Regions from separate parts of the Homo sapiens genome. Here all the other regions are linked to region 1. Evidence: fine-mapped expression QTL. A gene starts in region 1. Each other region holds a variant in brackets. All regions are shown on one strand. Distances are from middle to middle.

Region 1 (4,000 bases):
GCTGAGGCAGGAGAATGGCGTGAACCCGGGAGGCGGAGCTTGCAGTGAGCCGAGATAGCGCCGCTGCACTCCAGCTTGGCAACAGAGCGAGACTCCGTCTCAAAAAAAACACATGATTTTATTTCCTGTTTTATTTCTGCTTATTTCATCAAGTGAAAATATCATAACTTATTTCACCTTTTACTGTCAGTGGAACATTTACTTGTTTCCAATTTCGACAAACTCTGCAAATGCACATCTTTTTAAAAGAATCTGCATTTCTGATTCTTCAAAATAAATTCCTAGAAGTGATATTACTGGATGAAAAGTGGATGGAGAGCTTAAAGGCTCTTAGTTACTCAAGAATTACTGGGTCAAAGAGGATGGCCCATTCACAGCCTTTGAATAAAAATAAATATTGCCAAACTGCTTTCAAGGAAGGTTTTCTAATTCATCCTCTCACCAGCAATATAGGAGAGCGTGTGGCTCACATTAATAAAAAGAACTCTGCTGTTTTGAGCAGTACTAAGCGGAGCGTTTAAACTTATATTTCTTTGATTAGGAAGGCTGACATTCGTTCCTGCAATTCATATTTCTTCCTTACTGAATTGCCTGTTCCTATCCTTTGCTCGTTTTTCTATAGGGATATTATTTCATTCTTTCAGTGTTGTTTTTACAAAATAAACAATTTTTTTGTTTGTTTTTTCCCCCGAGACGGAATCCTGCTCAGTTGCCCAGGCTGGAGTGCAGTGGCGCGATCTCGGCTCCCTGCAACCTCGGCCTCCCGGGTTCAAGCGATTCTCCTGCCTCAGCCTCCCAAGTAGCTGGGATTACAGGCACGCGCCACCACCATGCCCGGCTAATTTTTGTATTCTTAGTAGAGACGGGGTTTCACCATGCTGGTCAGGCTGATCTCGAACTCCTGACCTCAGGTGATCCGCCCGCCTCGGCCTCCCAAAGTGCTGGGATTACAGGCGTGAGCCACTGCACCCGGCCCAACAAATGTTTTAGAAAGCCATCTGGATGATAGTCCATGACTGCTGAACACCGGCTGAGGTCCACAAAACTGCGCTCACCGCTTGGGGACTTTCCAGCCGGCCTTTACTCTCCATGGAAAGCGGTCTTTCCACAAACCTCCACGGTGGGAATTACTGCAAAGGCATCGGCTCTCCCGGCCTAGAATATCTCGCGGGATCTCAGCTGTCCTTGGGCCCCCCCCCTCAGCGCAACTACCAATCCCAACATGCAACGCGCCCCGTGGCCCAAGCGCCCGAATGAAGGCTCGGGGCCAAAGTCATGTGTCTGACTGCGTCACACGTCCCGTCATCTCTCCCACGCCTTTTTCTTCAGCGTACACCTTGGTCGCCATCTTGTGCGCGAGGTTATGGAACCTCTGAGTCCCGCCAACTCTATGGTCGAGCGTTTCAGGGATCGGCCAATCGTAATCCAGATCTCGTAGGAAAGCCCCGCCTCTATCCGCATGGAGGCGGGAATTGCCACGAAGCTCCTGTGGAGGGAGAGGAAGCAGCTGCGGAAAGCCAATAAGAGTGGGGAATCGATGACGTCAACCAATGGGGACGCGGGGATATTACGGCCAATGAGAATGGAGAAGGTCCAGGACACGTGGGTGGGGGAAGCTGAGCGCTGAGACCAAGGGCTAAAGCTGGGAGGTGAGTCTGTCACCTTGAGCCGGGCGAGCGCTGTGGGCCAAGCAGGGGTTGCAGGGTAGTAGGAGTGCAGGTGACTTGGGGCCGGGAGCCAGCAATAGGCAGGGTTGTGGGCTGGGCAGTGTGGAGGGGTATTTCCCCCCAGTGCTGGGAGAGGCTATGGCAATCTAGATATGGCCTTATCAATGAATGTTAATTACCAACGGTAATGAACGATTGACTGCCTCGGCTGGGGCGGGTCGGGGACTGCTGTGTAAGATGGGCAGGATCCTGCGCGACACCTGCCCAGTATCCGCCTCCAGTCTTCCCGAGAGACCATTCCCTTTCGCAACATTTCCTTCCTGGGGCTTGGGCACATTTCCTTGACTTCCGATCTCCATGACTTTGCTTTGAAGACCCACTGCTCTGTCCCTCTGACCTCTAATGCCCTCCTCAGCTGGGGCACGGTGCAAGGAAGAGCGTGGTCTAGGGAGGACGGACGGGGGTGAAGGGGACGACCAAAGGTCGTCATTATAAGCAAACAACCAGGGTCTCAGTGGGATTATTATTACTATTTTTTCCCCCTCTGCAGACTGAAAAAATGCAGACCGCCGGGGCATTATTCATTTCTCCAGCTCTGGTAAGGTGCCGCGCCGCAGTGCTCTGTAGTACCAGGTGTATGGTGTGGACGCCATCAGTGTTTAATGAATGAACCCAGGGGAGCTTGGCGTCCTGATGATGTAGGCTCTTTGAGGTGGCTGTAGGATGTGATGAAGGTAACCCCTGTTTATCTGGGCCTGTGAACCAAGCTATCTTGGCTTTGGAATGTGGTCAGAGAGTCTGGATTTGATTTTTATCCCCAGTCTGTCCTGGCCATAGAGACAGCCCACTAAAACAGTGGTTTTCAACAGTGGCTGCACGTTAGAATCATCCAGGGAACTTTTTAAAATCCTGATGCCTAGGCTGCACCTTAGACCATTTGCATCAGACTTTGGGAATGGGGGTGGAACCCAGGCATCTGTATCTTTTAAGACTTCTCCAGATGATTCCACCGTGCAGCCAAGTTTGAGAACCACTGCACTAAAAATTATTTCAAAAAAGCCATGTTACAGATGGCTCTCCTTGGATGGCTATTCCAGTCGGTTTCCGGGGCTGACTGGCCCACTCCATTTAGGGTGTGTAGCTGTGAGTGTATTTTAGCAGAATAAAATTTCCCCCATCTGATTACTTGGTGATCTGGGTATAAACCTTTCCTGTACCTGCTTTGGTATTAGTGTGGGTTCTTGTTCCATTCTGAGAAGCTGATTAAAGCTGTGCCCAAAGAAGTGAACTTTGGTTTGGTTTTGAATGGTGAAGGTTGCCACTGCTGACTATATCAAGCTATTGAGACAGCTGTCTCTGGGGCAGGCCTATCTGATAGGAACAGGAATAAATTGACCTTGAAATACATTGAACTTATTCTGTTTATGAAATCTGTAGTCATTTTTGACAGCTCAGCAATTAGGATTTTTTTTCCTTGACTGATTTGGTAGGATGTGGCTTTCTGATTTTACAGATCCGCTGTTGTACCAGGGGTCTAATCAGGCCTGTGTCTGCCTCCTTCTTGAATAGCCCAGTGAATTCATCTAAACAGGTAAGGGAGGAATAGCTCTCTTAGGAATGTTCCCAAGGCCCAGGATGGTGGCTCACACCTGTAATCCCAGCTCTTTGAGAGGCTGAGGCGAGAGGATCACTTGAGCCCAGTTGTTCAAGACCAGCCTGGGCAACACAGTGAAACCCCATCTCTACAAAAAAAATAAAAAAATTAGCCATGTGTGGTGGCATGTGGCTGTAGTCCCAGTTACTCCAGGGCTGAGATGAGAGGATTGGTTAATCCCAGAGGTCGAGACTGCTGTGACTATGCCACTGCACTCCAGACTGGGTGACAGAGCAAGACCCTGACTCATAAAAACCCATTAATTAATTTTTTTTAAATCAAGGAATGTTCCCAGACAGGGGTCCTTCAGCTTAAGTTGCCTTTAGACCAAAGTGGGAGGAGAGTTGGAGAATCTGTATGCTTTAATAGTTCTAAGTCCCCCAAGGTAAGCCTTGTAGGTAAGAAACTTATAAAAGTGAGGTGTGCCTAACCCATGAAATTTCCCTAGTCCTGTCTGCTGTCTGACAACAGACTCTAAGACTAATTCCCAGCATACTCTGCAATCAGAGTATTCTGCATTTACCAGGCAGTTTGCCAACAGTTTCAGAGCTCAGGTGGGTGGGGTGAAGGAGGTAGAGTCAGCCACCTGTCCTTATGCCATACTATCTCTCTGCTATCTCGCCTGCCTTGCTTCTCTTTCTAGCCTTCCTACAGCAACTTCCCACTCCAGGTGGCCAGA
Region 2 (4,000 bases), 58 kb after region 1:
AGACCCCGCCTCAAAAAATAAAAATAAAAAGAGCTGGACTGAGTTACAGTTTTGGAATCAACACAGTGAAATCATGAATGTGAATTTTACTAGGAAGGTTTCAAGTAAAATGATAAAAAGAGGATGAGAGCAAAGGTTGATGGCAAGACATGTAGCTGCCATTTTGGACCTAGAGGAATGGTGGAACCATGAGTCCAATGAGCTTCGATCCCTAAGGATTTTACAGAGCAGACTGTCATACTAGCCCTAGGCCACCAATCTCTGAGTGTTTATTTATTTATTTATTTTGAGACAGAGTCTTGCTCTGTCGCCAGGCTAGAGTGCAGTGGCACGATCTTGGCTCACTGCAACCTCTGCCTCTTGGGTTCACGCAATTCTGCCTCAGCCTCCCGAGTAGCTAGGACTACAGGAGCACACCACCATACCCAGCTATTTTTTTTTTTTTTTTTTTTTTGTATTTTAGTAGAGACGGGGTTTCACCATGTTGCCCAGGCTGGTCTTGAACTCCTGAGCTCAGGCAGTCCGCCCGCCTTGGCCTCCCAAAGTGGTAGGATTATAGGCGTGAGCCCAGCCTATTTTTTTTTTTTTTATTTTTAATTTTACTAGAGCGCAAACGCAGTCCACCGCTACCACAAATTACGCAGTCGAGTTTCCCACATTTGGGGAAATCGCGAGTCGGCACATCCGGAGTGCAATGGATGAGCCTCGCCCTAGGAAAACCACCTTCAGGATCATGGTATCTCCCCTGCCAGGTAAGTATTGAGTGTTTATGAGAAAGAGAAATAATGTCCTGTCTTACTGAAGCCACTATTATTTTGTGTTTTCCTGTTATTTGAAGCCAAATCTATCTCTTCTTTTTTTTTTTTTCCTTTTGAGATGGTGTTTTGCTCTTGTTGCCCAGGCTGGAGTGCAATGGCGCGATCTCAGCTCACCGCAACCTCTGCCTCCCGGATTCAAGCAGTTCTCCTGCCTCAGCCGCCCAAGTAGCTGGGATTCCAGGAATGCGCCATCACACCCAGCTAATTCTGTATTTTTAGTAGAGATGGGGCTTCTCCATGTTGGTCAGGCTAGTCTCGAACTCCCGATCTCTGGTGATCCGCCTACCTTGGCCTCCCAAAGTGCTGGGATTACAGGTATAAGCCACCGCGTCTGGCTTTTTTTTTTTTTTTTTTTTTTTTAGATGGAGTTTCCCTTTGTTGCCCAGGCTGGAGTGCAGTAGCACAATCTCAGCTCACTACAATCTCTGCCTCCTGGGTTTAAGCGATTCTCCTGCATCAGCCTTCCGAGTAGCTGCCACCATGCCCGACTAATTTCTGTAGTTTTAGTAGGGACAGGGTTTCACCCCTGTTGGCCAGGCTGGTCTTGAACTCCTAACCTCAAGTGATCCACCCGCCTTGGCCTCCCAAACTGCTGGGATTACAGGCGTCAGCCATCTTGCCCAGCTGCCAAATCTAATTTTTTTTTTGTTTTTTTGGAGACGGAATCTCGCTCTGTTGCCCAGGCTAGAGTGCAGTGGCGCAATCTCGGCTCACTGCAACTTCCACCTCCTGGGTTCAAGCAATTCTGTCTCAGCCTCCTACGTAGCTGGGACTACCGTGCACACTGCCATGCCCAGCTAATATTTTGTGCTTTAGTAAAGACGAGGTTTTACCATGTTACCCAGGCTGGTCTGGAACTCCTGAGCTCAGGCAATCTGCCCGCCTCGGCCTCCCAAAGCGCTAGGATTACAGGCGTGAGCCTCTGCGCCCGGCCTTTTGTTTTGTTTTGTTTTTTGTTTTTTTTTTTGAGACAGAGTCTTCCTCTGTTGCCCAGGCTGGAGTGCAATGGCATGATCTCAGCTCACTGCAACCTCTGCCTCCCGGGTTCAAGCAATTCTCCTGCCTTAGCCTCCCGGGTAGCTGGGACTACAGGCGCACATCATCACACCTGGCTAATTTGTGTATTTTTAGTAAAGACAGGGTTTCGCCACGTTGGCCAGGCTGGTTTCAAACTCCCAACCTCAAGTGATCCACCCACCTTGGCCTCCCAAAGTGCTGAGATACCATGCATGAGCCACCACCCCCAGCCATCATATGAGGTCTTAACTACATAGCTTCCAAACACAAAACTTGGTCCCATAGGTACTCACTGACACCATCTAGATATACCTGCTTCCTCCCTTACTCTTTGACTCATTATACAGTGCCCTAAGGTATACACACTGATCCGCTCGCTCACAGTGAAGACCTTAGATTTAATCATTCATGCCTTCAAATGCATACACACATGCCTAGTCCCTTTTTTTTTTTTTTTTTTTTGTGATGGAGTTTCGCTGTTGTTGCCTGGGCTGGAGTGCAATGGTGCGATCTC[A/G]GCTCACTGCAACTTCTGCCTCCTGGGTTCAAGCTATTCTCCTACCTCAGCCTCCGGAGTAGCTGGGATTACAGGCATGTGCCACCAAGCCTGGCCAAGTTTTTGTATTTTTATTAGAGACGGGGTTTCTCCATGGTGGTCAGGCTGGTCTTGAACTCCTGATCTCAGGTGATCCGCCCGCCTCGGCCTCCCAGAGTGCTGGGATTACAAGCATGAGCCACTGCGCCTGGACTTTTTTTTTTTTTGAAACCGAGTTTCGCTCCTGTTGCCCAGGCTGGAGTGCAGTGGCGTGATCTCAGCTTACTGCAACCTCTGCCTCCTGGGTTCAAGAGATTCTCCTGCCTCAACCTCCCAAGTAGCTGGGACTACAGGCGCTCGCAACCATGGCCGGCTAATTTTGGCTTTTTAGTAGAGACAAGGTTTTACCACATTGGCCAGGCTGGTCTTGAACTCCTAACCTCAGGTGATCCACCTGCCTTGGCTTCCCAAAGTGCGGGATTACAGGCGTTAGCCACCATGCCTGGCTATGCCTAGTCCCTTAGATGCACGAAATGGACCTCAATGGCTATGCTGAGTGTAGCCACACTCAGGCAGACATGCTCATCCTCCTATGCAGATACCTTTGTACCGTTTTATAATTTTAGGGAAAATATGCTGACCAGTGATATCCTGGTAAGGGTTTAACAACTACCTTGCCAGGTTGGGAGAGGGGAACCCTGATTTGTAGCATTTGCCTATCTCCATGGTGTAAATACTCTGATCATGGGCTTGATATGTTGCCAGGATGGTGTACGGTGGCTATTCACAGGTGCCATCACAGGGCACTACAGCTTTGAACAACTGGGCTTAAGTGATCCTCCTGCCTCAGTCTCTCAAGTAGATGGGACAAGGCACTCGCCACTGTGCCTGCTTCCAGCACATCACTGAATGCTGACCATTATGGAATCCCTCGTTTGCTTTAAGTGACTCATTGGCTTCGTGGCAGGGTGGCTAAGAACATGGTCTTTTTGCGGGGAGGGGCACGGAGTTTCGCTTTTGTTGCCCAGGCTGGAGTGTAATGGTGCAATCTCGCCTCACCGCAACCTCCGCCTCCTGGGTTCAAGCGATTCTCCTGCCTCAGCCTCCTGAGTAGCTGGGACCACAGTCATGCGCCCCCACGCCCGGCTAACTTTGCATTTTTAGTAGAGATGGGGTCTCTCCATGTTGGTTAGGCTGGTCTCGAACTCCTGACCTCAGGTGATCCACCTGCCTCGGCCTCCCAAAGTGCTGGGATTACAGGCGCGAGACACTGCGCCCGGCTAGAACATGGTCTTTTATTTTTATTTTTATTTTTTTTGGAGACAGGGTCTCACTATGTCACACAGGCTGGAATGCGGTGGTGCCATCATAGCTCATTGTAACCTCGAACTCCTGGGCTTAAGGGATCCTGTGGCCTCAGCCTTTCAAGCAGCTGGGACTACAGATGCATGCCACCATGCCTGGTTAATTTTTTTAAATTGTCATAGAGACAAGGTCTGGCTTTGTTTCCCTGGCTGGTCTTGATCTCCTGGGCTCAAGCCATCCTCTCACCTTGGCCTCCCTAAATACTGGGATTACAGGCGTGAGCCACCGCACTCAGCCTCCAGTTGACCTCTAAGGTTTCTTTCAGCTC
Region 3 (4,000 bases), 42 kb after region 1:
GACAGAAAATTTAGAAGACTGCACAACTGCCAGGCGCAATGGCTCATACCCATAATCGCAACACTTTTGGGATGCCCACATTGAGAAGACTGCTTGAGCCCAGGGGTTAGAGACCAGCCTGGGCAACACAGCAAGACCTTATCTTTACTAAAAATAAAAAATTAGCAGGGCATGGTGGCAATCGCCTATAATCCTTGGGAGGCTGAGGCAGGAGGATCACTTGAGCCCAGGAGTTCAAGGCTGCAGTGAGCTGTGATTGTGCACCACTGTACTCCAGCCTGGGTGACAGAGCGAGACCCTGCCTCTAAAATAAAAGGCTGCACAACACTCAACTACGTCAGTAAAAAGACAGGGTCAAGGAGCAATAAGTGATGCTTGGACAATCATGGGAGATACACAGGAGTCAGGCTGTCTGCTCAGCGAACCACTCATTCCAACATCCAGACAGCGGTCAAAGATACACCTGCAGATGCCCATCAGGAAATGTGAATGAGTGAGCTGAAGAGGCAATGGGGGTAGTGTCACCTGTGGCAAACTAGAGAATGCTTATCTATTTTAAAGGGGGCAACCCAGCTGACTATTATTGCCAAGTGGCAATTCAAACCCAATACTGCCAAGTTTTCTGATTCTAATTGAAATCAGAGAAAAAGAAAACCTACAAAACAGTGTGTAGATCACATATCCAGCCCACATACAGAGTTTAAAACCTCTGCCAAAGCTCAAAAAATGTTATCACCCAAACAGCCAGGGAAAGGGCACTTTTAGGTAGATTGGAATGCATTCTCCAACCCCCAAAGAATAGCAAACTGAAATGCTTCAAATGCTCACCCTCTCTTCATGAAATCTGCAATGAGTATGGCTAGTAATCTTTTGTTATCACTTTCCTTTTTTTTTTTTTTAGGAGATGAGGTCTTGGCTGGGCGCGGTGGCTCACGCCTGTAATCCCAGCATTTTGGGAGGCCGAGAGTTCGAGACCAGCCTAGCCAACATGGTGAAACCCCATCTCCACTAAAAATACAAGAACTAGCAGGGCGCCAGTGGCAGGTACCTGTAATCCCAGCTACTCAGGAGGCTGAGGCAGAAGAATCATTTGAACCCAGGAGGCGGAGGTTGCAGTGAGCCGAGATTGTACCACTGCGCTCCAGCCTAGACAACAGAGCAAGAGTCCATTTCAAAAAACAAAAAAAAAAAGTAGAGATGACGTCTTGCTCTATATCCCAGGCTGGAGTGCAGTGGTGCAATCATAGCTCACTGCAGCCTAGAACAATGAGTGCATGCCTCAACACCCAACTAATTTTATTTTTTGTAGAGACAAGGTCTCACTACACTGCCCAGACTGGTCTCGAACTCCTGTCCTCAAGCGATCCTCCCACCTCAGCCTCCCAAAGGGCTAGGATTACAGGTGTAAGCTATTGCACCCAGCCTCGTTACTTTTCTTTGAATATTCTAGGTCTTCAAGATCTCATAGTAGGCTGACTCTTTGGAAGTTACATCAAAAACAGCCTTTTATCTTTTCTCAAACTGGACTCGCACATAGAGGCTGGAGAACTAGATCAATTTATATTCCATCATCTCACTACCACCTCCTTCCCCAGCCTTTCTAGGCACCTACACTACTCTCCTTGGCCTCAAATAATCTCACGACTATATACAGCCCTGGCCAGCCGTGGTGTCTCACACCTGTAATCCCAGCACTTTGGGAAGCTGAGGCAGGCAGATCACTTGAGGCCAGGAGTTCAAAACCAGCCTGGCCAACAA[C/G]GTGAAACCCCATCACTACTAAAAATACAAAAATTAGCCAGGCGGCCAGGCGCGGTGGCAGACACCTGTAATCCCAGCACTTTGGGAGGCTGAGGCGGGTGGATCACGAGGTCAGGAGATCGAGACCATCCTGGCTAACACAGTGAAACCCCGTCTCTACTAAAAATACAAAAAATTAGCCGGGCGTGGTGGCGGGCGCCTGTAGTCCCAGCTACTCGGGAGGCTGAGGCAGGAGAATGGCGTGAACCCAGGAGGCAGAGCTTGCAGTGAGCAGAGATCACGCCACTGCACTCCAGCCTGGGCGACAGAGTGAGACTCTGTCTCAAAAAAAAAAAAAAAAAAATTAGCCGGGCATGGTGGTGCACACCTGTAATTCCAGTTACTGGGGAGACTGTGGCACGAGAATTGCTTGAACCCAGAAGGCAGAGGTTGCAGTGAGCTAAGATCGGGTCACTGCACTCCAGCCTGGGTGACAGCAAGACTCTTTCTCAAAGAAAAAAAAGACTATATATAGCCCCAAGTTTGTTAAAAAATAATACATGAAAAAATGCTTAGAAGGAACTACATTAAAATATATAGCAGTTGTAATCTCTTAATTGAGAAATAATGGTTTTTGTTTCCTTTTTTAAATCTATATTTTCTGTTTTCTAAAAATAGCCAGCCATACTGGCCCATGCCTATAATCCCAACTACTTGGGAGGCTGAGGTGGGAGGATTACTTGAGCCCAAGAGTTTGAGGCTGCAGTAAGCAATGATCTTGGTAGCAGTAAGCTGTGATCATGCCACTGTACTCCAGCCCGGGCAAAAGTGAGACCCTATCTCTTATTTTTTGTTTGTTTTTTGTTTTTTTTTTTCCTGTATGATATGGAGATCATACAGATTTCTAAGCTAGCCTAGACATGAGGAATAGGGAGAAAAGAGTTCCATCTGAATTTTAAAGACCTCTTTCTGTACTCCAAGGGATTGGAAGACAAGACCTACTGACTGACATCCTGGGCGAACTTGCCCCTTCCCTTCAACACCTGTTGATGTAGTTCCTCCAAAGTTATCAGACCTGTTTGGAGACAGGGAACAGAAATCAGAAAAAGAGATTACCCACTTTAAATAAGTTGACAGTCATTACAATTCCAGTGGCCTACAAGTAGCAAATAACATTCTAGTTCCTAATTTTTTTTTAACACTCTCCTTATGAAATAACTGACCATAATATGAGAAATGGATTCTGAGACCTTGCTAGGCCTGTCAACAGAGAGCTACGAAAATCTAAAAACAAAAGCAGTATCATCTTTGAAAAACTATAAATGTCCTCTTGACATCAAGGCCGTGTCTATTTATAGTTGATGATGATTTGTAAATGGTTTTAAGTTTTCTTTCTGTAACTTCAATCCACACCATTTAACGTGCTTACTAAGAAAGATGGCATCACCAGATGACAAATTTTAAGGTCACATTTTAGGGAACACAGACTCAGTTGGCATTCCCATACGTCGGAGAGACAGTGCAGGACTATAGTTACTAATGAGAAAATCACTCCAGACACATCAGACATCAGGGGAAAAGGCCTACTTCCTACCTCTCTACTATTTTCTGTACTGACTAGGGACTAGACCTTCCTGGCCAAAGATCTTTGGAGAACAGAGACAATCGTTCAGGTAATTCTATTTACCCTTGGCCATGGAGACTTGCCATGGATTCAACTGCATGAAACAGCTAAGATGTCTCTCAAGTCCTTAGAGGCCTGTAGACTGCAGGATGGAAACGATAATCTTTTACGGTTTTCTCCCTCTCAGAGAAGTCCAGAGTCCAGTTCACAGGACCTAGCCACCCTCACCTCCATTCCGATGCTTCAGCGCCAGGCACACTTCGATAATTTGGACACCTAGTTCGTAATAGAAGTCCCCCACGCCCAGCATCTCAGACCAAAATCCTTTTCCAGCTACAAGACAGAAAAACAAAATCTCGGTTATTGATTAATTTACATCCCTTCTTTTCTTTCAAACCTGCATTAAAACATCTATCATATGGGAAGTCTTCCCTGCATGGCATGAAGTTCTTCTGCTCCATCTGCTACTCAGGAAACAATCGGACTCACGGTAACTCCTGCTGAAGAACAGGGTCAGACGGCTCCAGAGGGCAGGCAATCTAAAAGTCATTTCTGGCCGGGCGCAGTGGCTCACGCCTGTAATTCCAACACTTTGGGACATCGAGCTAGGTGGATCGCTCGAGACCAAGAGTTCAAGAC

Which allele goes with the higher level. Positions count from the first base shown, and alleles are read on the strand shown. Sizes are in standard deviations (SD) of each study's normalised expression.
In carriers of allele G in region 2, the expression in lymphoblastoid cells of the gene that starts at base 1,596 in region 1 tends to be higher than with A alone (small effect, 0.13 SD a copy in GTEx).
As copies of C replace G in region 3, the expression in hippocampus of the gene that starts at base 1,596 in region 1 goes down (small effect, 0.20 SD a copy in GTEx).

The links. PIP is the estimated chance that this variant, and not a neighbour inherited with it, causes the effect.
Region 2: its variant is the best candidate, but not a certain one, in a credible set for the expression of ATP5MC1 in lymphoblastoid cells (GTEx, PIP 0.83).
Region 3: its variant is the best candidate, but not a certain one, in a credible set for the expression of ATP5MC1 in hippocampus (GTEx, PIP 0.58).

What each region holds. Positions count from the first base shown.
Region 1 is chr17:48,891,192-48,895,191 of GRCh38, forward strand. ATP5MC1 (ATP synthase membrane subunit c locus 1) reads left to right here and starts at 1,596. Exons shown (of 5, transcript NM_005175.3): 1 at 1,596-1,719; 2 at 2,218-2,265; 3 at 3,181-3,258; 4 at 3,965-4,000. The coding sequence starts at 2,227. LOC105371814 (a long non-coding RNA gene) reads right to left here. Exons shown (of 4, transcript NR_135674.1): 2 at 1,056-1,486. RefSeq lists enhancers at 412-1,391, 1,029-1,488, 1,499-1,618, 2,199-2,308, 2,349-2,398.
Region 2 is chr17:48,948,761-48,952,760 of GRCh38, forward strand. It overlaps the pseudogene RNU1-42P. Among named protein-coding and RNA genes, the nearest start is that of SNF8, 5.9 kb to the left of the region's middle. The variant A/G (reference allele first, on the strand shown) is at 2,350.
Region 3 is chr17:48,933,431-48,937,430 of GRCh38, forward strand. SNF8 (SNF8 subunit of ESCRT-II) reads right to left here. Exons shown (of 8, transcript NM_007241.4): 4 at 3,590-3,694; 5 at 2,740-2,812. Among named protein-coding and RNA genes, the nearest start is that of SNF8, 9.4 kb to the right of the region's middle. The variant C/G (reference allele first, on the strand shown) is at 1,759.